3 linked regions of the Homo sapiens genome follow. The protein of the gene in region 1 interacts with the protein of each later gene in a biochemical or structural test. Each region holds a gene or a part of one and is shown in the gene's direction. Other genes may lie near its edges.

The links.
Region 2: the proteins of PAX5 (region 1) and TLE4 form a complex in vitro, tested with the Homo sapiens proteins (2 studies listed by BioGRID).
Region 3: the proteins of PAX5 (region 1) and RUNX1 form a complex in vitro, tested with the Homo sapiens proteins (one study listed by BioGRID).

What each region holds. Positions count from the first base shown.
Region 1 is NC_000009.12:37,010,248-37,017,270, reverse strand, and holds part of PAX5 (paired box protein Pax-5), read left to right. Parts: intron 1-2,076; coding exon 2,077-2,274; intron 2,275-7,023. UniProt on the Homo sapiens protein: Transcription factor that plays an essential role in commitment of lymphoid progenitors to the B-lymphocyte lineage. Fulfills a dual role by repressing B-lineage inappropriate genes and simultaneously activating B-lineage-specific genes.
Region 2 is NC_000009.12:79,567,543-79,574,969, forward strand, and holds the start of TLE4 (transducin-like enhancer protein 4), read left to right. Parts: upstream 1-4,422; 5' UTR 4,423-5,248; coding exon 5,249-5,293; intron 5,294-5,634; exon of another isoform or gene 5,635-5,789; coding exon of another isoform or gene 5,790-5,828; intron 5,829-6,146; coding exon 6,147-6,244; intron 6,245-7,330; coding exon 7,331-7,394; intron 7,395-7,427. UniProt on the Homo sapiens protein: Transcriptional corepressor that binds to a number of transcription factors. Inhibits the transcriptional activation mediated by PAX5, and by CTNNB1 and TCF family members in Wnt signaling.
Region 3 is NC_000021.9:34,885,298-34,892,320, reverse strand, and holds part of RUNX1 (runt-related transcription factor 1), read left to right. Parts: intron 1-2,239; exon of another isoform or gene 2,240-2,428; coding exon of another isoform or gene 2,429-2,644; intron 2,645-2,849; coding exon of another isoform or gene 2,850-3,515; exon of another isoform or gene 3,516-5,208; coding exon of another isoform or gene 5,209-5,224; coding exon 5,225-5,478; intron 5,479-7,023.

The sequences.
Region 1 (7,023 bases):
GGCCTTGCAGGGTTAGTGTGAGGATCAAGATAATTCGAGGAAGAGCTCTGTAAACTTTAGGGTGCTGTGGCTGAATTATAGTGAGTTGTATTATAGTAAAAATTGGCTTTACATTATAAAATTGACAGGACAATTGGAGACTGCAGAGATTGCTGTGTGCCTTGACTTAGGGTGCTTTTCTAGCCATCTGGTTTTTTTGGGATATTGTTAAAAAGTTGTTTGTGAGTAATAATTTTTTGGCAATTACAGAAAAATTGCTGAAAGCAATTTTTTAGAAAGAGGGAAGATAGGTTGAGTTTTTACCTTATGGTCAAAATTTGTAAATGACTCACTCTTTTCAATGAAAAACAGACATTTCACTTTCACATCACTGCTTCCAAAGTATTTCATCTCTTTCAGGATATTCACTAACTTGGCCTTACCCAAACATACCCAGGCTGAGAATTTCAGCATCTCTGTAAATGTGACCAGTCATCTTGGGTAACATTTTCTACCCATCTCAGAATCACCTCGTTCCCTTACCTATCATCAACTCTTGTTAGGTTTCAAAATTATTAGTCATTTAAAAAATGTCTTTTTGGTTTTTTAAAACAGATTCAACTGCAAGATAATTTCCTTGGAAAAGGAAATCAAGAATTCTTCTGTAAATATTGAGAGAGACGTCTGGTGATGTCTCAGATTCAGAAAAGAAATTATGTCAATTATCCCCCCCTGAAATGATGTTTCATGACACTCTTCTTCTTGGTCTTGGTTTTACTGTAAAACCCTGACATCCTATTTTCCTTAATGAGCAAATGCTGATAGCATGGAAATGTCCTTAGAAACAGCCATTTACCTCAGGGGAGGTCCCTGGAAGAGTTGCCGTGACTTGTGGTTGGTTTTTCCGATTGCTTGAGTTTTGACTTACAACAGATATTTTCAGATAATTCTGCAATTCAACATTCCTTTTAATTTTACACCAGGATTATTATTTTTCTCTTACAGAAAAATAAGTTGCATTTCAGGGGACAGTTTCATACAATGCTGGAGATTGTGCTAGGGCTTGGGAGAGCTGGCAAATCAAAAGTGTAAGCTACCTTATTGGGGAAATTGTAGTTCAAGAGGCTGGGTGGGCAACAGCCCTAGCTTGCCCATTTGGTCTTGTGTGACCCTAGGAAAACTGTTTAACCTTGATGAATCTCTGCTTTATACCTGTAGATCAGGACCTATTCATTTATTTGTTCATTCACTCATTCATTAATTCAAAGCAATTTATGTGCTTTAGAACTGTTGGAGATAAAATGGGAAAACTGACTCGAAAGTTTTCTGTAAACTATAAAATGGTAGATGAATGTGAAAGAATTTTGTTAATGCTTAGCCAGTGCTGTCCAATAGAAATACAATGAGAGACTGGCCGGGCGTGGTGGCTCATGCCTGTAATCCCAGCACTTTGGGAGGCCGAGGCAGGCGGATAACCTGAGGTCGGGAGTTCGAGACCAGCCTGACTAACATGGTGAAACCCCCGTCTCTACTAAAAATACAAAATTAGCTGGGCATGGTGGCACATGCCTGTAATCCCAGCTACTCGGGAGGCTGAGGCAGGAGAATCACTTGAACCCAGGAGGCGGAGGTTGCAGTGAGCCAAGATCACGCCATTGCATTCCAGCCTGGGCAACAAGAGCGAAACTCCGTCTGAAAAAAAAAAAAAGAAATACTATGAGAGCTGTGTATGCAATTTAAAATTTTCCAGCAGCACATTAAGAAAAGTTAAAAAAAAGAGGTACTATATTTTAATTATATATTTTAACTCAATATATAAAAATTGTTATTTCAACATACAACTAATATCAAAATTATTGAGATATTTTACTTCTTTTGGTACTAAGTTTTAAAAATTTGGTGTGTATTTTATATTTACAGCACATTTTGATTCAGACTAGCCATATTTCAAATGTTCAAAAGCCGCATCTGGCTGGTGGCTACTGTATTGGAACGTGCAGATCCGGACGTTTCCTGGCCAGAGTAGCCCGTTATTTTGTTGCCAATATCCACTTTACTGGTTCCTCATGGCTAAGCTTCTTTCTCTTTGGGTCCTAGGTATTATGAGACAGGAAGCATCAAGCCTGGGGTAATTGGAGGATCCAAACCAAAGGTCGCCACACCCAAAGTGGTGGAAAAAATCGCTGAATATAAACGCCAAAATCCCACCATGTTTGCCTGGGAGATCAGGGACCGGCTGCTGGCAGAGCGGGTGTGTGACAATGACACCGTGCCTAGCGTCAGTTCCATCAACAGGTGAGGGGCTCGTGCCTGTGGGGGTTGGGGATTTGGAGGGATGGCAGGGCATCCTGGAGGCTCTGCATGTGCCTTTCCTGAAGATCTGGTCTCTTTTTTCACCAAGGCCCCTTAGGGGTTACTGAACAGGAGGGATGCTAATGGGGCCTGCTCGGTCTCTGTTACCCTTCTCTTCTTTCCAAAGCAGGTAGGAGTCCTAGGCCCAGGGAGAGGGGAGCATGCCAACACCCTGGCCGCTCGAGTTTCTTCTGAGCCCAGAGTTATTTCCATCCCTCCCTTCACCACCCACCTATATGTGTGGAACACTTCACAGTGAATTGTCCTGACTAGATCTTCACAAATGTCGCTGTCCCTGCAAACCTAGGCTCAAGGTCTTAGCACTGGCCCATCTCAAAGATTCCCAGGAAGAAAATCCTTCCTCCAGTTTGGGCAGAGCTTGAGCCAGTGAGTGAGAGGAACATAAACCTGACTTGGAGTTGGGAGACTTGGCTCCTTGTTCCAGCTCTGCCACAAGCTCAAAGTGGGACCTTGACAAAGCTCTTCCTCTCTCTGAGAGCCCAGAACCCCAGTGGTTCTGATGTGCATCTTCAACTCCAGAGGTGTTGTCCAGGAGGCTAAGATGCTCTGGAGCAAAGGAGTTGCCCTCTCCCCAACTCATACATGGAATCTCACACAGGGAGAGAAAGAACCAGAGAAACACCCTGGGAGTCATGCACAGGATCTTCCTGGCAGCCACACAGCTCCCTTTCCTTTCCAGTCTGATCCAAGACACATGGAAGGGCGCTCTCAGAGCTTTAAAAATAAATGTATGGAAGAAAGTTTTCTGTTGTAGATGATGAAATTTCAACTCCATTTAAACCCAAAGAGTCAGGGATGAAGTTCAGAGATGAACAGAAATGATGGTTCTCTAAACTCTGCAGAGAAAAGAGAAGGGAGCAGCCTGAAAACTTGGACAGTTTCCATTTCTCCAAATCACACCCTACCATCATCAGTGCAGAGCTTGTGTGGGCGTAGGAGACCCTCACTCCTGGCAGAATGAGGTGGTCGGTCAGACTAGAATGAGAGCCTCTTGTCCTGATAGTGGATCCTTCTGTGATGATTCAAATGCACAGATCGCTGTGGGAGTGCATGTGTTCACATTTTGAGTCCTGCTATTTTGTAAATTGTTAGCCTGTTTTTCTTCTCTTGGCAAACCTTGACAGAGGCCCTGACATCATGCATGGTACAGGGGAGATAGAGGAGAATCAGGCACACAGTTTCTTGGTCTGTTCCAGAGGGGCTCTTTGTCCAGGGTGGGGTTCTGACATGCACTTAGAAGCCTGATGCACCTGGACAAAATTGCTGAGGGGATAGCAATGATGATGGTAGGTTTTGGGGAGGAGGGGATAACTCCTGTTCTTTTTATGGATTATAAGAGGCTCCATTGTGTTTTATGAGCCCCTTACTTCTGGCTCTTTGCGGGATTTCCACGACACAAAACAACATGACAGGCAGCTGGCCTGCTCTGCAGAGGAACATCAGCCAAACCCCTGGTCAGGCTTTGGGGACCCACAGGTTTCCCAACGTAGAGTACACATATAATTGGGGGTTCGCAAGATAACCTTAGGTAGTCCATGGGGGTCACAAAATCTAATGCCTTACATGGGGCCAGGCAGATAAGGTAATGAGGGAAGCAGGCCAGGCAAAAGACGATGGGGAGAGGTTGGGTCCCTGGCAAGCTAGGCAGCACAAGTCCGATTAAAGGGGCAGTGCTTCTTAGCTCCAGCCGAATGCTGCCAGGACCATGGGTCTGGTGTTTGCCAGATTTTTTGCATTCTTCAAGAGAAGGCAGAAGCTGGGGCTTGTGTAGATGTATGCATGGATATTTCTGTATGTGAAATCTCTATATTTAAATTAATTTTTTTTTTATGTAGAGATGGGGGTCTCCCTATGTTGCCCAGGCTGGTATCGAACTCCTGGGCTCAAGCAATCCTCCTACCTCAGCCTCCCAAAGTGCTGGAATTACAGGTGTGAGCCATCACACCTAGCTTAATCTATATATTTTTTTAACAGAGGCAACTAATTTCAATTAAAAATGCCTTGCAGGATGAGCATAACTTATTTACAGAGCATCGGTTTACATCCTCTATAATGCAAAGATGCAAGGGTGCACATTGTTTTCTAATACATTTATTTTAATGTATGTTAGAAAAACGTAAGTAACACACCAAACCAGTGAGTTTGTGAACTCCCCCTCAACACTCCCACCTACCCACTTACAGTAGGGAACTACAATTGCCTTATAAAATAAATTTATTTAAGTCAAAATTGAAGTGATGTGAAAGAAATGTATGAGGCAAATAGAGCAGTGGTTACAGATGTGGCAAAGACTGTGAAGGGGCATGGGATGTGTGGTCAAGAGAGATCACGGGCCCGCTGATGTTTTCTGCCTGGACCTGTGCTGTGGGGAATTTCTAACTGCTGTCTGTAGGGCCATGGCTAGCCTCAGGGGCGTCCTGAGTGTCCAGTCCAAAGCCATGGCCAGGCAGGCCATGCCTCTAAGGTGCTTTCATGTCTGTGGTCTCCTATAGTCCTTAAGGCTTGACTCTATCCTGTGGCAGTTGTAGCAACAGAGGCCAAGATGGAGAGTGCAGAGGAACAGTGACTTGGAGATAGACATGGGGGTAGAACCCAGGTTTCCCAACGGTAAAAGGAGGGCTAGTTTCTTTCCACCACTGCCCTGTAGGACTCTGCGAGTGACAGAACTGAGGATCTGTGAGATGAGAGACAAGAGGGAGGACAAGTATTTTCTTCTGCATTTCAGATCCTCGCGGGCTGCCCGTTCTGCTGCCTGGCTGCCTGCCCTCTCTCATCCTTAGCCTTCTCCAGTGCTCTTCACTGGGGGCTCCTTTTTGGGAGTATTCTCTGGCTCCTTCCTGCTCTCTTCAGTGACAGCTCACTAAGTGTAGGACAATCTCATGCGGCTGCCTTCCTCACCCCTAAACCCCCAAAGCCAGAGCCATCCCAGCATACAGTTTTATTTTTCAGATGAAGGCAAAGCTCCCACTGCATTCAGATGAATGCAGCTTCTAAATGCCTGCCTTGCAAATGACACTGTGTAAGAGGGTCCACATCTCTCCCAGCCCTTGCCTCCCTTGGAGGCAACTTTTCACCCTTTCTGATTTCAAACAGCTGGGGAGGGAGTGATGGCTGGATTTGTGGCTATTCTTATAGCCACAGGGGCATCTCCACGGTTCACCCCTAGGAGTATGTGACTTCCTGTTACCTTCCAGGGGACCAGCCTAGGAAACCATGACTGACAAGGGGTTAAGCATCACTGAACTAGTTCTGTTAGGCTTGTGGGGGATTTCCTGGGACACAGATCACCTTGTTCATTTGACTTCTTATGGACAAACGTGCTGGGAGGCTGCACAACCTGCAGGGATCGCTGGATCCAGTCTGAGTGTCCATTGGAGGTGGCCATCCCAAAGCTGACCCAAACGGTGGGTTGAATGGGGTCTTCCTTCTTCTATTCCAGCACCGTGGCCAAGGGGTGGGGAGTACAAGTGGCACTCCCAGCTTAGAGGGGCAGCTCTATTTAGTACCAACTGGTTGGGTCATGTGAGAACGTGAGGCCAGTATTGTTGGGTGTTCTGATTTTTCAAGAGAAGCTAGAATTCAGATATTTATGAAAAATCTCCCAACTTAAAAATATTAGCAACTAAGTCAAATAAAAACAAATATACTGTGCAGGCTAACAAAACTTGTCCCGGGCTGGAGGTGGCCCTGGGGAAGATGTTTTGTTAGTTCTGCTCTTAATTCTAATTTTGGTAGCAGGCCTTCTGAGATTGTTTATCCATTTCCTCTTTCTTTTTTTTTTTTTTTTTTTGTTTTTTTGAGACAGGGTCTCACTCTGTCACCCAGGCTGGAGTGCAGAGGCACAATCATGGTTCACTGCAACCTTGATCTCCCAGGCTCGGGTGATCTTCCCACCTCAGCTTCCCAAGTAGCTAGGACTACAGGTGCCACCACCATGCCTGGCTAATTTTTTGCATTTTTTGTAGAGATAGGGTTTCATCGTGTTGCCCAGGGTGGTCTCGAACTCCTGGACTCAAGTGATCCACTCACATCGACCTCTATCTGTGTCCTCTTTCTTCTCCACAACAGTCACAGGCCTGGGTGCCACCTGTGGGGCCCCTTGCAGCTTGGCACAGTTGGACCCCTGGGTTTTGAATTCTCGGCATAGCTGATGGCCCAAGCTTCTTACTGCACTGATGGCAGTTTGATCAGTGCCATAGATGTGGGTGTTTCTTCAGCCTTATCTTCCTGTTTCCTTTTTCAAGGCACCATGATTTTCTCTTTCACTGTAATTTTGTGAGGACTGGTGGTGGGGCGGGGGGCGTGGGATGATGGTGAGAAGCCTAGCCTTTCAAAGAAGGAAGAGTGATGTTTCCATGGGATCCTTAAATGCCACAAAGTCCCTCAGAGTTTTAAACCTCAAATTCTAAGTGGGTTTGAAATCCAAATAGCTTTTATGCCTCACATAGGAAGTATTTAGCAGAGGGACCGCGCTTCCTTTGAATGTGGCTTAAAGTAAAGTGCTGGGGCATGGGGGCTGGGAGTCTGGGCTGACTCGCTGTGCAATTCTGGGCAAGTCATTTGAGCATCTTGGGTTTTAGTTTCCTTATTCATAGGAAGAGTTTGATGCTGAGCTCCTTTCTCTGTTGGAACGTCTAGTGTGCTCTGCAGTACGGCAGCCAGGGTCCTGCT
Region 2 (7,427 bases), about 43 Mb from region 1:
GGGAATTGGATCAAAGGGAGATTGGTAAGAGGTAAAGAGAGCTCTAAATAATACAGAAATAGAGATATAAGGAACAGCTACTTACTAACCCTAGGGCTGAGATACAGCATCTCAAAAAGAGCTCCTCCAAGACACAGACACACTCTTAGGGCTGGCTGAGATCCAGACTTTGCTGGAGAGGGCACAGTTGTAACTTTCTGAATAGCAGGAGAGCCCTGCTAGAATTCTGCCTTCTGGAACTTGCTAGAAATCCACATTCCAGAACTCGTTGGAAATCCATTCTCTGGGGTTCCAAGGAAAGCTGCTGAGGGAGGTGACTCATTAGAGGCACTTGCTCCAAAGCCACCTAAGGGGCTTCTGGAGGAAGCTGCTGGCTGCTGGGTGCTGCTGCTTGCTACCTGTGCTGTAGGAACCTGCCCAGTATGCAACCAGAGCCAGGAACCAGGAAACCAAACCCTTTCCTCCTGCAATGTCTCTCCAGCGCCTTCTATTGACCTAGCTTTTTTAACAGCTGGAAAATATTTAAAGGGCTCAGATTCAGTTTCACTAGGCAGGCAATGAGGATGAATTTGGAGCTAAGAGGCAACATATTAATAATAGCCACTTTTATTGTGAAATCCCCATATTCTGGCACATAGTAGGTTTAATAAATATTTGGTGAAGTAATAAATAAATGATTTACATCTAACCAAAGTGAAAAGCATGCTTGGCATATGTCACTTCAAGATTGGAGCTTTCAGGCCTAGCTTTTAACATGAAAGTTGCTGCCAAGTGCCTCCCACATGAAAACTCTGGAACACCCCACCTACCCCCCACTCTGTGGTAGGGATAAGACAGGCCTCCAGATAACATCATAGCTTGGCTCAACAGTTAGCGAGAAGTGCAATGAGAGAAGCACAGCAGAGAAAAGGAGAAAAAGTGGCCATGAGCCCCACTTACAGTCTGTGTTACGGCTAGGGCTGGGCCGCCAGTTGCTGCATTTGCATCTTTCTGAGACATTGAGGTGAGTTACATAGCTCTGCCACGTGGCCAAAATGTGAAACACATCCAAGGGCTATATTTTAATACAGAACTTAAAAAATAAAGAAACATCTTGACTTCTCTAGCCACTTTCCTGTTGACACAAACCATCGAGAGAGATTAGGGGAAAGATCCTTGCTATAAGTGATCTGATATTTCCTAACAGAGCAAAGTTTCCTCTTTGTCCACTGACCCTTTCAATAGTTCTTCGGGTTCTATTCTTAGAATTCTCGTTTCCTGTCCTGAGAGAAAACTGCACAGAATTTCAATAAATATGACCCAAATGATGTGGAAACTTCCTATAAGGATGCAATGAGGTATTCATTCATTAATGCCATCAACAAATATTTACTGAGCACCAACTACCAGACAGTGATGGCAGACATAATTTGGGGAGTTTGGAGTGCAACTGTGAACACAACCAGGTCCCTGTTCTCATGGAACTTGCTAACATTCTGGCTAAAATAGAGAACATGGAACTTCCTACAGAGGCACTGTGGGTGATTTCACAAACCATTGAAAAGCTCTAGTGGGAGCAAGCAACTAACCAACCTTAGAATAAAACATGGTTGTTGCTGGTGTTCTTAGAAACTTCGCTGTCCTCGTGTGCAAATTGTATCACTAAAGTCTTCTCACTTTTGATTCTTGGGAAGGTTTCAGGGCAGGGCTGTCTAATGGAAATATGTAAGCCTCATAATTTAAAATCTTCTAGGAACAAAGTTAAAAAAGTAAAAAGAGGCTGGGCACGGTGGCTCACGCCTGTAATCCAAGCACTTTGGGAGGCCGAGGCGGACGGATCACCTGAGGTCAGGAGTTCAAGACCAGCCTGACCAACATGGAGAAACCCCGTCTCTACTAAAAATACAAAAAATTAGCTGGGTGTGGTGGCGCATGCCTGTAATCCTAGCTACTCGGGAGGCTGAGGAAGGAGAATCGCTTGAACCCAGGAGGCGGAGGTTGCGGTGAGCCGAGATCGTGCCATTGCACTCCAGCCTGGGCAACAAGAGCGAAACTCTGTCTCAAAAAAAAAAAAAAAAAAAAAAAAAAGTGTGTGCCTGCAGTCCCAACAACACTGGAGGCTCAGGCAGGAGGATAGCTTGAGCTTCAGAGTTTGAGGCCAGCCTAGGCAACACAGGAAGACCCCCATCAATACAATAAATAAATAGAAACAGACAAAATTAATTTTACTAATATTTTTAATTGAGTTATTCAAAATATCACAATTTTGACATAATTATAAATTATTGAGCTGCAGTTTTTTCACATTAATTTTTTCAAAATGCCACATATATGTGTACTTACAGCACATCTCATTTTGAATTGGACACATTTCAAGTGCTTAACAGTCACATGTGGCTAGGTATGGAACAGCAGAGGTTCAGAAAACTGTCAAAAGGACTTCTCTGTCCTCTTATTTTGGGGATGGAGGCGAAAATATTTGCCGAATTGAAACATTCTGTGAACTTTGGCTCTGGGTTTTTAGTATGAAATTAGAGGCAGGTGAAGACCACCATAGCCTTCCTTTGCACCAGCTCACTACAGTGGCCAGAACGGAAGGAGGTTCACAGAACGTGCTAGGTTGGACATTAAGTCACCGAGTCATCCACTGAGGAAAGGGATATCATTAAGAAGAATAGTTTTCCACTAACGCCGAACCGGCGGCACCATCTCAACCAACAGGTCAAGTTACAGTAGGCAAGCACGCATAGAAATAAACGTCTAAAACCCAGCCTGTTACATTAGCCAACACTCTTCTTGACTTTTTCCGAATTTTTTCCCTGTCCCCAAGATTAGCCGCTCGCTAGAAAAGACTGCGAGCCTCAGCAGCCTCCCCTTGAACTGGGGCGCTGCCTCCAGCTGGACACGGACTAAGGATGGAAAGGCGCACTGACGGAGGCCGCCCCCATTTCCCAGGCCCCTCCCTAGGGGTGCCCCTCCTCAGCCATGGCTGCCCCTTTCTCTCCTCCTCCAGCATCTGCCCCTGGGGCCACCCCCACCTTTCCGCCATCTCTCGGGCCCGCGTGGCACCCTGCTCTGTTTTTAACGGGGATAAACTTGACTTGCTTCTCCAAAGAGCGGGAAAAAGAGGCGCAGTCTTGGTACTGATCTGGGGGAGGGAACGTCCCAGGGCGCGCAGGGGCGTTTTCTACCCGTGCCCCGTCGGCCTGCTCTGTTCAGTACCGACCGTGTTCGGGGTTCACGTGGCCCAGTCGGCAAAGTTTCTTTGGAGGTCCAGCGTCTCTGATTCCCGGATCTTCAGCCCCACCCGGAGCCCCCACGGTTACTGCCCCCCGCGACCCCCGATGGAGCGTCGGGATGCGCTTTCTCTCCGAGTGCCTCCGGGGGTGGAGGGAGGGAGGCCTGTTTCGGAACTAAATGGCAATCACAGCCCCCGCGGGGCTTGGAGGGACGAGCTCCCCGCCCACCCCGCGGCCCCGGCCCCAGCCAGCATCTCGCGACTCCATTTCTGGCTCTAAACAAGAACGGGGACCGAGTCGCGTTCACACGGAAAATTATGCCGGCTCCAGCGGCGCGTAAAATTGATGTGAACCGAACGAAGTAAGATCAGCGTGATCCTCCCCCTCTTGTCTCAACAGGGGTTTCGGCGCGTTACACAAGGCCGAGCTTGTCTCTTTAAGGAGACATTGGACCCTAATTAGTCCGCATTCCTGGCGCGGCTGCGGAGCGAGGGGCCGAAGGTGTCTGGGTTGGGAGACGGGTGGGCGGGAGGACGAGACTCGGAAGAAGATCTTTTGACCAGCCCCCAGGCTCACCGCTCCCTCCACCCTCTTTATTTTGCCGCCACCACCACCACCACCACCAACACCTAATTCTGAAGATGCAGCCAGGGCAGCAGCAACAGCAGCAGCCGCCGATTCTCCCAGCCCCACGTTACTTTGATTGACAGCTGAACAAATGTTTTCCCGGTTCGAACGCTCGCGCTAAGGAACGTCAGCCAAGGCGAAGCTCCGCCTTGGGCGGGCCATCTCCGCCCCGCCTCCGCCAACCTCATTCCTCTTCGTTAATTGGTCGGAGCTACAGGCGACGCCCGGCCCCCACGTGGGTTTCAGCTGGGTTGGCTCCTCCCCGCTGGCTTGCCATTTGTCAGCAGTGAAATGATGGGCACTAACACAGAACGGCGATTAATGTTCAGCCACCTCTGATTGGTTGGTGGAGACGCCTACCGCAACGGGGGTGGGCGGGGCGCTTGGAGAGCTCGCCAGAGCGCTCGCATGGCGGGCCGGTGATTGTAGTCAATCTGGCCGTATTCTCAGGCAGGGTCGCCCGGGGCGGACTACATCTCCCGGGATGCTGCGCGGCCGCCCCGCGGAAGATTGTGAATATGTATCAGAATGTTAATGATTAGCTGCTGCTAAATTTGGTCAAAGAAGTCACCTACACAGAGCGTGTTGTTAGAGCTGTGCTGAGCGGGTGTTTGGGTTGTTGGCTGCTTTCTTCCCCCTTTCTCACACACTTGTATATTATTTTGAGGTGGTGTTCGCAGAGTTTGAAAGGAGAGAGAATTAAAAAAAAAAGCCGCAAGCGTTTCACTCTTTTATTTTTATAATCCCCTTCAATTTGGGGTTAAAAAAAAGACAAGAAAACAGGAAGGAAGAGAAATAAGGAAATGAGATGTGGTAAAAGAAGCTAAAAGGTGCCTTTTAAAAGATCGTTGCTGTGAAGTGAAAAAAATCTCCAGAGAAACCAAAAAGCACCGCCGAGACCTCTTCCGAACCAAAGGAGTTTGTGTTTGCTTTTAGGGAAGAAGAAAGATCATTCATTCGGAGGAATAACAACCAATTAAAAGACAAATAAAAAAAGTTTGGAGTGGGACGCAGAGCGAGCGAGAGGAGCTGCCGGCGGGCGGTGGGGCGCGGAGCCCGCACTTTCCCGGCCGGGTGAGCGGCGGCCGCGGCGCCGGGCTCGGCGGGTGCGCCTCGGCGGAGCGAACGTCGGAGCGTTGCCTTGGGAGACGCGCGCCGGACAATGCCCGCGGCGGGCCAGTGACGCCCGCGGGGAATGCGGAGCGGCCCGGCAGCCGGCACCCAGCCGCCGCCGCGCGTTCCTGCCGCCCGTGTCACGCGAGACCCGGCGGGGGCCGGGACCGCCCGAGCCGCCCCTCAGACCGAGCCGGCCGCCTCCGCTGCCGCGGCCGCCTCCTCTTCGGGGTCATTAAAGCCAATGAGCCGCGCGCCTCTGCCGAGCGCAGCCAACTAAATCGGCTTGGATGATTCGCGACCTGAGCAAGATGTACCCGCAGACCAGACACCCAGTGAGTGCGGGCGGCGGGGCGCGGGCTCGCCGGGTGCTGGGGGATTCCCCGCGTCGCCCCCTGCGCACCGAGTTGTGTCTTTTGGCCGGAGGGGCGTGGAGAGCCGCCCGAAATCGGCGCCCCGCGCCGGGAGCAGCCCGCCCGCCATCACCCCCACCCCCCGGCGCGGTGGCCCTCGGAGGGGGTGCGGAGAGGCAATTGAGTTGTAGCCATTTTCTTATTGTTGTCTTTGAAGCCCCTGGAAGCCGCGCCGAGCCGTTTGCGGTCCCCGCGCCGCGACTCCTCGAGGGGGGGTGGCGAGCGATGAAGGAGGCGCGACTCCGCGCCCGGGCGGGGAGGGCGCCCTCGGCAGCGGCGCTGCTGGGCTGGCTGCGGTTTGGAAGTGCGGGGCGCCGGCCCCTCGCGCCGCGGGCCGCCGGGGCGAGCGGGCGAACGAACGAGCCGAGAGGGTGGCGGCCGCCTCCCTCCTCCCCCGGCCTGACCGCAGCCCGACGCCATGGCGCGGGTCCCCCCGACGGGCCAGTTTCGATTCCGGGTGAGGAGGGAGTGGGCGCGGCGCGCGGGTCCCTGGGTGCCTGTCTTTGGCCGGGGAGGGGAGACGGGACTCGAACCCTCGGGGTCCGGGGCGCGGGGGCCTGCGGGCGGGAGTATGCGGGGCCCCAGGACCACCTCGAAACCAGCCTCTGCCTGGGCTGTTGGGCGCGAGGAGGGTTGCGGGAGGAGAGTTTTAATCTCTCTTTGCTTGCGTGCGCGATGACCCTCACCCCCCGCTAACGCCGCATAGTAGGTTTTCTCCGTCTCCCTGCTTCGCCTGTGATGTGGGCTAATTAAATATTTTATTGTTGTTCTTCAGGCACCGCATCAGCCTGCTCAACCCTTTAAATTTACAATTTCCGAATCCTGTGATCGGATTAAGGAAGAGTTTCAGTTTTTACAGGCTCAATACCACAGGTAACGATATTGACTTTAGCTGATCCTTCTGTTTGCTTAGCTCTTGTCTCCCCGACAAATACACACAAACACTTACCCTCCTCCTTTTTTGTGGGGGCGTCACAAAGGTATTATTTTTTTTTCTCGGTGGGCAGAAAGGGCAAATCAAGGCCTCCTTCCTTAGGCAGGTGTAAATAAATTAAACATTTCTTCTACCGTAAATAAAAAGAAGGCAGAACAATCGAAACTGGGGAGACTTGGAAAACGCTGAGGCCAAACTTTCGATATTGATTTATTGGGGCCGGGAGAATGAAAGGTTGGGAAGATTCTGGGGCCTTTTGACATCCTTGGTTCTTTATTACTCCGGACTTGATTCCTTCTCACTTTTTTCTGCCATTCCACTGAAGAGCTGAGAGCCCAGGGAAGTCGGAGTGAGCGATTTCATTACTTTTATGCTAAAAAAAAAAAAAATGTTTTCATCTTATAGACGATTTTTAGACTTAGGGTGCCTTTGAGACATTTTTCTTTAGCTGGCTTTTTAATGATGCCTAATTCTTATTTCATAAATGCAAGAACCAAAACAAACCACTGAACCCGATTGACACTTTGCCCCTGGGTGGTGGTATTCAACTTGTCTGTGTGTTTTGGAGGGAAAAAAACAAGATATCATTCATAAGACATGCTTGATTCATATTTTCATTAATCTCTTTGTAGAACATTAAAGAAATTCCCTTGTGACGTTTTGGAGGACTTATTTGTGCTTGTATGTGCAGTCATTATTGAAGTTTATTTTCGTGTTTGTTTTATTAAGTGAATATTCAATTCTGGAGGAAGTTCCTGAATTAAACTGATTAGAGGATTTGTTTCCTTAAAACTTAATTAAAAAAAAAATCCTAAAAACAAAAAACCACATATATGATCCTTATTGAAGGGGCAAGTCCAGACTGGTTCCAATCACCCCTTTCCCCTTCCCTTTCCATAATGATGGGGGTATTTATTTAAGATTGTTGATTTAGTTGTTTGTAGGTGAGATTTAGAATATGCGTTTAAGAGTTGAAGGATGTAAGTTAAGATCATTGTACTTAGAGTATCTTATGTCTTGAACAGTCTGAAGCTGGAATGTGAGAAACTCGCCAGTGAGAAGACAGAGATGCAGCGGCATTATGTCATGGTAAGAAAACCATGTCACAGATTCAAAGTGCCT
Region 3 (7,023 bases), on another chromosome or scaffold:
AAGAAAAAAATGTTTAATTAAATTCCAATGTTCAAAACTGGATAGTGTGTATGGCAGGTGATTTGTACATACATGTTACTCTTCATCAAAATTGTTTTCCATCCCTGTGACATCAATACAAACTGCAGCTATTTGGTTCCAAACCATAGCAAGATACATTCTATTTTTTAAAATGTAAATGGTCATTTAAAATAGAAATAATTCTTTTAGACGTACTGCATTTTTACAAATGTGATTTTGGAAATATATTGCTCGCAAAGGGTAATTTTAAGAGAATTGTTGAGATTCTAATCCCATCTTTATGCATATTTTGGGGAGGCTTTTGAAAGAGCAAAAAGGTAAAAGATTTAGTTATCTTCTGAGACCACCTATAGTTCTTTACCTAAAGTTGTAGAAGAAAAACGTCAATGCACTGTTACTGTTTTCCAATGAAATTATTTTTCTTCCAACTAACCAAGCAGTACTTTTTAAATCCACTGCAGAAATGTACATTTCATTCCTGTTGTGAGCCGTTTTCAATTCTCCTCCCTCCCTCTCCCCGCAACAAAATTTGGAAAAATCTGTCACGTAGCATCCGCCCAACGTATCGCTTCGTTGTATTTTTTTTTTTTTTAATTTTGCATTATGACAAAAGTAAATTCTAGCATTACTCCAGGGAAACACTGGGAATGAACCTGGTAATGTTTCCTTTCCTTTCTCCCTTAGGCAAAGGAAGGGGAATTCTGTATTGTCGCTAAAATGAGCGCTCTTGGTGGAAAGGAATTCCTCACTTCGTACACGCTGTGGCTGTCCTTGAAAGTGCAGGCTCCGTAAAATGCCCGGCCGACTAAGGGGTTCCCTTTCCCCGGAGCCCCTGCCTCTTTCCATTCATTTTAGATCCTCAGTAAGGAAGGGCAGAGGTTGGTCTGTTTCTTCTTTTCAAGAGGGCACCGCGCTGCGCAGTTAACAGCCTGCGCCGCTCCGGGGAAACCCAAATGTCCCGCGATCCCATCGAGTCAAGGAGCAAAAGCTGTGATTGCTATCAGCTTTTTGTCGGGCTTCAAACTCGGGGTTTATCGGTTGAAACTCCTAGCTGAGCAGCTCCCACGACGCTGCCTCTGACGGCTAAACTCGGTGCATGCAAGGCTGGGACCAACTTTCCTTACTCGATAAAGGAACTTGACTCCCTCCTGGGAGACCGCAGCCCGAGTCCGACTCGCAGCCCCCGTCGCGGGGTTTAGGGTTTTAGGCAAGCGGCCCGAGACCCAGAGGAGCCTCCCTGGACCTTTCCGAGGGGCAAATCACCCGAGTCTGCTATTTCCCCTGGAGTCAAAAGCCTACTTTTGGAGCCGCCACACCCTCGTGCTCCCTCCCGCATCTCGGGGGTTCCGGGGGATGCACGTGGGGGTGGCCCCAGGAGCCCTGGGTGGGATCTCGGGGAAATGCATTGGAGACCAGGCGAAAAGGTTTCCCTTGCCCAGAACTTGCCTCTAGAGCGGGCCGCGTCCGAACCCGCAGGCAAAGGCGCTGCGGCCCCTGCGGGCGGGCGGGCGCGCGCGATGCACTCTTCTCAGGGACAGAGTTAGAAAGTGGACGTTTGGGCGGGGGGAGGGGGGGATTTACAACTGGAATTAGGCTTAAAAAAATCATTTTAAAAGAAAAATGTAGTAAGTTTTCTTTCCGAGACCCCAGGTCCATTAAAACAAAACTGAACTCGGGTGCTGGCAGTGCCCAGGGGGAGCGGAGGCGGAGAGGGTTGAGGCCGCGGGCCGCCCGCCTTAGCCCCCCGGAAGCCCGGGCTCCTGAAGCACAGATAGCCAAGAGCGGCCCGAGTCAAGCCCCAGGAACAGGGGCTTCGGGAAGAGACCCCGACCGGGCCGCACAGCGGGGAGGCCTGGTCCGAGAGTCCCCACCTGGCCGGCTGCGACTCTATATTGGAACCTCGGAAACGCGCCTTGGCCGTTCCAGCTCAAGTGGGCTCTGGGGCGGCTTCCTGTCTTTTATCCTCGAACGCTAGTTCTTCCCGGGCGACCCGAAGGCCACGAGGCGGGCCGCACAGCCCCGCGCCGTCGGGGGCGTTCCGGGAGCTCCGGGGACTGCGCGCGGCGTCCAGGGAGGGCGGCTGCTGCCCCCTGGCGTCCGCCAGAGCCCGCGGCGCGTCCCGACAGCTCCGCGCAGTCCGGGCCCGCCCGGGAAAGGCCTCCACGCCAGTCAACCCCGGCCCCCTCCTGCGTCCGGGCCCGCGGCAACGCCCGGGGACAGTCCCTGCGCGGCAGCGGCCACAGCACCCTAGCCCTGGGGGAGGGAGGAGCGGGCGTCAGGGGCCCCGTGAGGTCGGCGAGGGACCCCCGCGCCGGGGAGCTTAATTGAGGGGCTCCGCGGGGACCACAAAGCAGCCCGCGGTGGAACGGGGCCGGGATCCGGGGACTGGGTTGCAGCCCCGGGGTGGATGAGAGGCCCCGGGAGGTGCAGGGCCCGGCAGGGAGGGCGTGGAGGGACTCATGGTGACGGGAGCAGCCTCCGCTGGGAGGGAGCCCCGCCGGGCGGGGTCGGAGTTGGCAGCGCACGCCGGACCGGGGGCGGGGCCCTCCGAGCTCCGCGAAAATGCCCGCAGCACCGCGGGGACCGGCGCAGGGGGAAGCGGCCGCCCGCACGCGAAGCCGGGGTGGGTTCCGCACCTGGGGCCGCTCGAGCGCACGGGGGCGGGGAGAGGAGCGGGGGCCGCTTCCGGGGAGCCGGAGGGGAGACGCGGGGCCCGGGCAGGCTGTCCGGCTGCTGCGGGTGCCGGCGCTACAAGGCCCGGGAGCAAGCCGCGTGGCTGCTTTCAACTTTCCTTCCAGCCGCGCGTTCTTGGGGTCTTTCCTGACTAGGAAACTCTTCGCTGGCCGCTGACGCACGCAGCAAGTGAGACGCGCGGAGGGATCGAGCCGCGGCCCGGGCGCAGCGGTAAAAAACACCCATTACAGAAACCGACCCAAGGGAAGACGCTGAGAGCAAACGGCACGCGCGGACGCCGTCCGGCCTCATGCAAGGAATCAGCGCCGCTTCGCCGCAGCTGCCAGCCGGACGGTGCAGGAGCGCGGAGTGGCTCCCCCGGGCCCCGCGGCCAAATCGCACCCCCGCCCTGGAAGCGGAGGCCTGGCCCTGGGCGGCCGCGCAGGATCTGGGGCCGTCCGCGGGCTGCAGCCCGGTTCGGGAGCCTCGTGGCGGCCACTGCGCCTGCCTGCAGCGGCTCGCGGGGCCGGGCCTCTCCGGGTGCGGCGCGCCGGCCGGGTCCTCCTCGGGCCGGCGGGGCCTGCTTTCTTTTTCCAGGTCTCCGGACCGTGGCCACTCGCGGAGCCGCACAAGCCTGCGTGTGGCTGCGGAAAGGGGTCCGCACGCGGGCGGGGCCCCGGGCCAGCATGCAGGCTTGGATGCGGGGCGCGGGGGTGGCCTCCGACTCCCCGCCCGGGCTGCGTACAGTAGCGCGCGGCGCGGCGGCGGGGGCGCGCGGGCCAATTCCAGGAGCCGGCGGCGGCGAGCCGCGCCCTGGCTGATACCGGAAAGGCCTGTGATTGGCCGCCGGCCGCCCCTATGCAAACGAGCTGAGGGAATGGAATTCCTCCGGCCGGGCTTACAGTAAAAGCACGTTCATTTCCAGGCACTCTCATTCATAGAGCCAGCGGGCGCGGGCGGGACGGGCGCCCCGCGGCCGGACCCAGCCAGGGCACCACGCTGCCCGGCCCTGCGCCGCCAGGCACTTCTTTCCGGGGCTCCTAGGGACGCCAGAAGGAAGTCAACCTCTGCTGCTTCTCCTTGGCCTGCGTTGGACCTTCCTTTTTTTGTTGTTTTTTTTTGTTTTTCCCCTTTCTTCCTTTTGAATTAACTGGCTTCTTGGCTGGATGTTTTCAACTTCTTTCCTGGCTGCGAACTTTTCCCCAATTGTTTTCCTTTTACAACAGGGGGAGAAAGTGCTCTGTGGTCCGAGGCGAGCCGTGAAGTTGCGTGTGCGTGGCAGTGTGCGTGGCAGGATGTGCGTGCGTGTGTAACCCGAGCCGCCCGATCTGTTTCGATCTGCGCCGCGGAGCCCTCCCTCAAGGCCCGCTCCACCTGCTGCGGTTACGCGGCGCTCGTGGGTGTTCGTGCCTCGGAGCAGCTAACCGGCGGGTGCTGGGCGACGGTGGAGGAGTATCGTCTCGCTGCTGCCCGAGTCAGGGCTGAGTCACCCAGCTGATGTAGACAGTGGCTGCCTTCCGAAGAGTGCGTGTTTGCATGTGTGTGACTCTGCGGCTGCTCAACTCCCAACAAACCAGAGGACCAGCCACAAACTTAACCAACATCCCCAAACCCGAGTTCACAGATGTGGGAGAGCTGTAGAACCCTGAGTGTCATCGACTGGGCCTTCTTATGATTGTTGTTTTAAGATTAGCTGAAGATCTCTGAAACGCTGAATTTTCTGCACTGAGCGTTTTGACAGAATTCATTGAGAGAACAGAGAACATGACAAGTACTTCTAGCTCAGCACTGCTCCAACTACTGAAGCTGATTTTCAAGGCTACTTAAAAAAATCTGCAGCGTACATTAATGGATTTCTGTTGTGTTTAAATTCTCCACAGATTGTATTGTAAATATTTTATGAAGTAGAGCATATGTATATATTTATATATACGTGCACATACATTAGTAGCACTACCTTTGGAAGTCTCAGCTCTTGCTTTTCGGGACTGAAGCCAGTTTTGCATGATAAAAGTGGCCTTGTTACGGGAGATAATTGTGTTCTGTTGGGACTTTAGACAAAACTCACCTGCAAAAAACTGACAGGCATTAACTACTGGAACTTCCAAATAATGTGTTTGCTGATCGTTTTACTCTTCGCATAAATATTTTAGGAAGTGTATGAGAATTTTGCCTTCAGGAACTTTTCTAACAGCCAAAGACAGAACTTAACCTCTGCAAGCAAGATTCGTGGAAGATAGTCTCCACTTTTTAATGCACTAAGCAATCGGTTGCTAGGAGCCCATCCTGGGTCAGAGGCCGATCCGCAGAACCAGAACGTTTTCCCCTCCTGGACTGTTAGTAACTTAGTCTCCCTCCTCCCCTAACCACCCCCGCCCCCCCCCACCCCCCGCAGTAATAAAGGCCCCTGAACGTGTATGTTGGTCTCCCGGGAGCTGCTTGCTGAAGATCCGCGCCCCTGTCGCCGTCTGGTAGGAGCTGTTTGCAGGGTCCTAACTCAATCGGCTTGTTGTGATGCGTATCCCCGTAGATGCCAGCACGAGCCGCCGCTTCACGCCGCCTTCCACCGCGCTGAGCCCAGGCAAGATGAGCGAGGCGTTGCCGCTGGGCGCCCCGGACGCCGGCGCTGCCCTGGCCGGCAAGCTGAGGAGCGGCGACCGCAGCATGGTGGAGGTGCTGGCCGACCACCCGGGCGAGCTGGTGCGCACCGACAGCCCCAACTTCCTCTGCTCCGTGCTGCCTACGCACTGGCGCTGCAACAAGACCCTGCCCATCGCTTTCAAGGTACTGGCCCGGAGAGGGTGGTGGGAGGACAGGCGGAGGCCGGCGAGGCCGGGGGAGATCCGCGAGGGCAGCGGCCAGGCGGGCGGGGCCGGATTCTGGAAAGGGGCCCCCGCAGCCCCGGGTCGGTCTTCCTAGCTTGGGATGTGGGGGATGCTGTGTTGCCGTGGCGACCCTCGGGAGGCACTCGTCTCAGCTTTCTGGGGCGGCCTCCCAGGAGGGCTGAAAACATCAGGGTGTCCCCAAAGATATCCACTGGGAGCCGGTCGGGACCTCCCTGGCAGGGGCCTTAGCTTTGATACAAAGTAGGAAAAGTTATAACCCAGCCCGGCAGAGACAGCCCGTCTGCTAACTTACTGCTGCCCCTACCGCTGGATTAACACCCAAACCATTTTGTCTTCCTCAGATGAAAGGATCAGGAAATAAAATAGTAAGACTTTTCTGCCTTCAAGTCAGTGAAAAGAAACTAACTAGGGAAACTGTCAGGGATTTTTTTTCCCCTTCTCTAACCGCCCTATAGGAATTAGCATGTCCAAAGTCCACAGCGGGCGTAGTTAAGTTTGCAAAAGTTTTCTGAAGAGTTCTCTGAGCTTTTTAGCCTGCTCCTGCCAGAAGCCGCAAGTATCGAATCCTGTTTCTTTTCCCGGAACCGTTCTGAATGCTATCATCAGCTCACCTAGATTAAGCCAGGGGTAGCGAAAGGTGACGAGGCTGTTTTCGGAGAGCCAGGGGTCCCAGCGGCCCGCTTTCCTGCTAGAGGAGGGGGCGGCGCGTAGCCGGAGACTTCAGCGCGGCGGCTCCAAAGATCTCCCTTCACTTTTCACCCCTGATCATCCCCAAAGCTTTGAGCTGCCTTTAAAAACCTTGACCTTCAACAGGGGTATGAAAACAACCCCAGGCGTTTCTAAACAATCACCCTACTACACTAGCAGCAAGCAGTAGGAATTTAATTTCTGCAGTGGAGATTCTGTTTTGTCTTTGGTGGGTTTGAAAAGATGCGACTAAGTAAAATCAGTGCGGGTCATTTCCTGTTCGTTTAAAGGGCGAATCAAGGCAGGTGGTTCCAAGTGTAAAGATAAGCTACTAAAAAAAAAGTTTAAATAATTGTCCCCTTTAAAGGGAGATTAATTTAATATAAGCTTTTTATAGTTCCAAGCCTCAGCTGGGTCTTGATCTTATTACAACGACGAATATTCACTTTTTAAAAAAGTATTGTTGCGGTTATTTTTAAGCTTTATACAGTTTCCACACTTAGATTGTGATTTCTAAAACAAAACGAAATTTGCAGTTGGCTGTGTCTATAGATTGGCCTCTTTTTCCACTCACTTTTCTAAAAGCAGTTTTTTTTGTTTGTTTTGTTTTTTAGTGGGGGTGGAAATGAGGAGAAGGAACGAAGGAACGTGGTGGCTTGCTTGACTCTTTTTTCCCTCCCTCCGTTTACTTAGATTTGGGTTTGGGAGACCATTTTACTTTTAAATCATTCTAACCCTTTGCCTAAATGGACTCAGCGATGACTCTTTAGGGCACCCGCATTGAGAGGGGACCCAA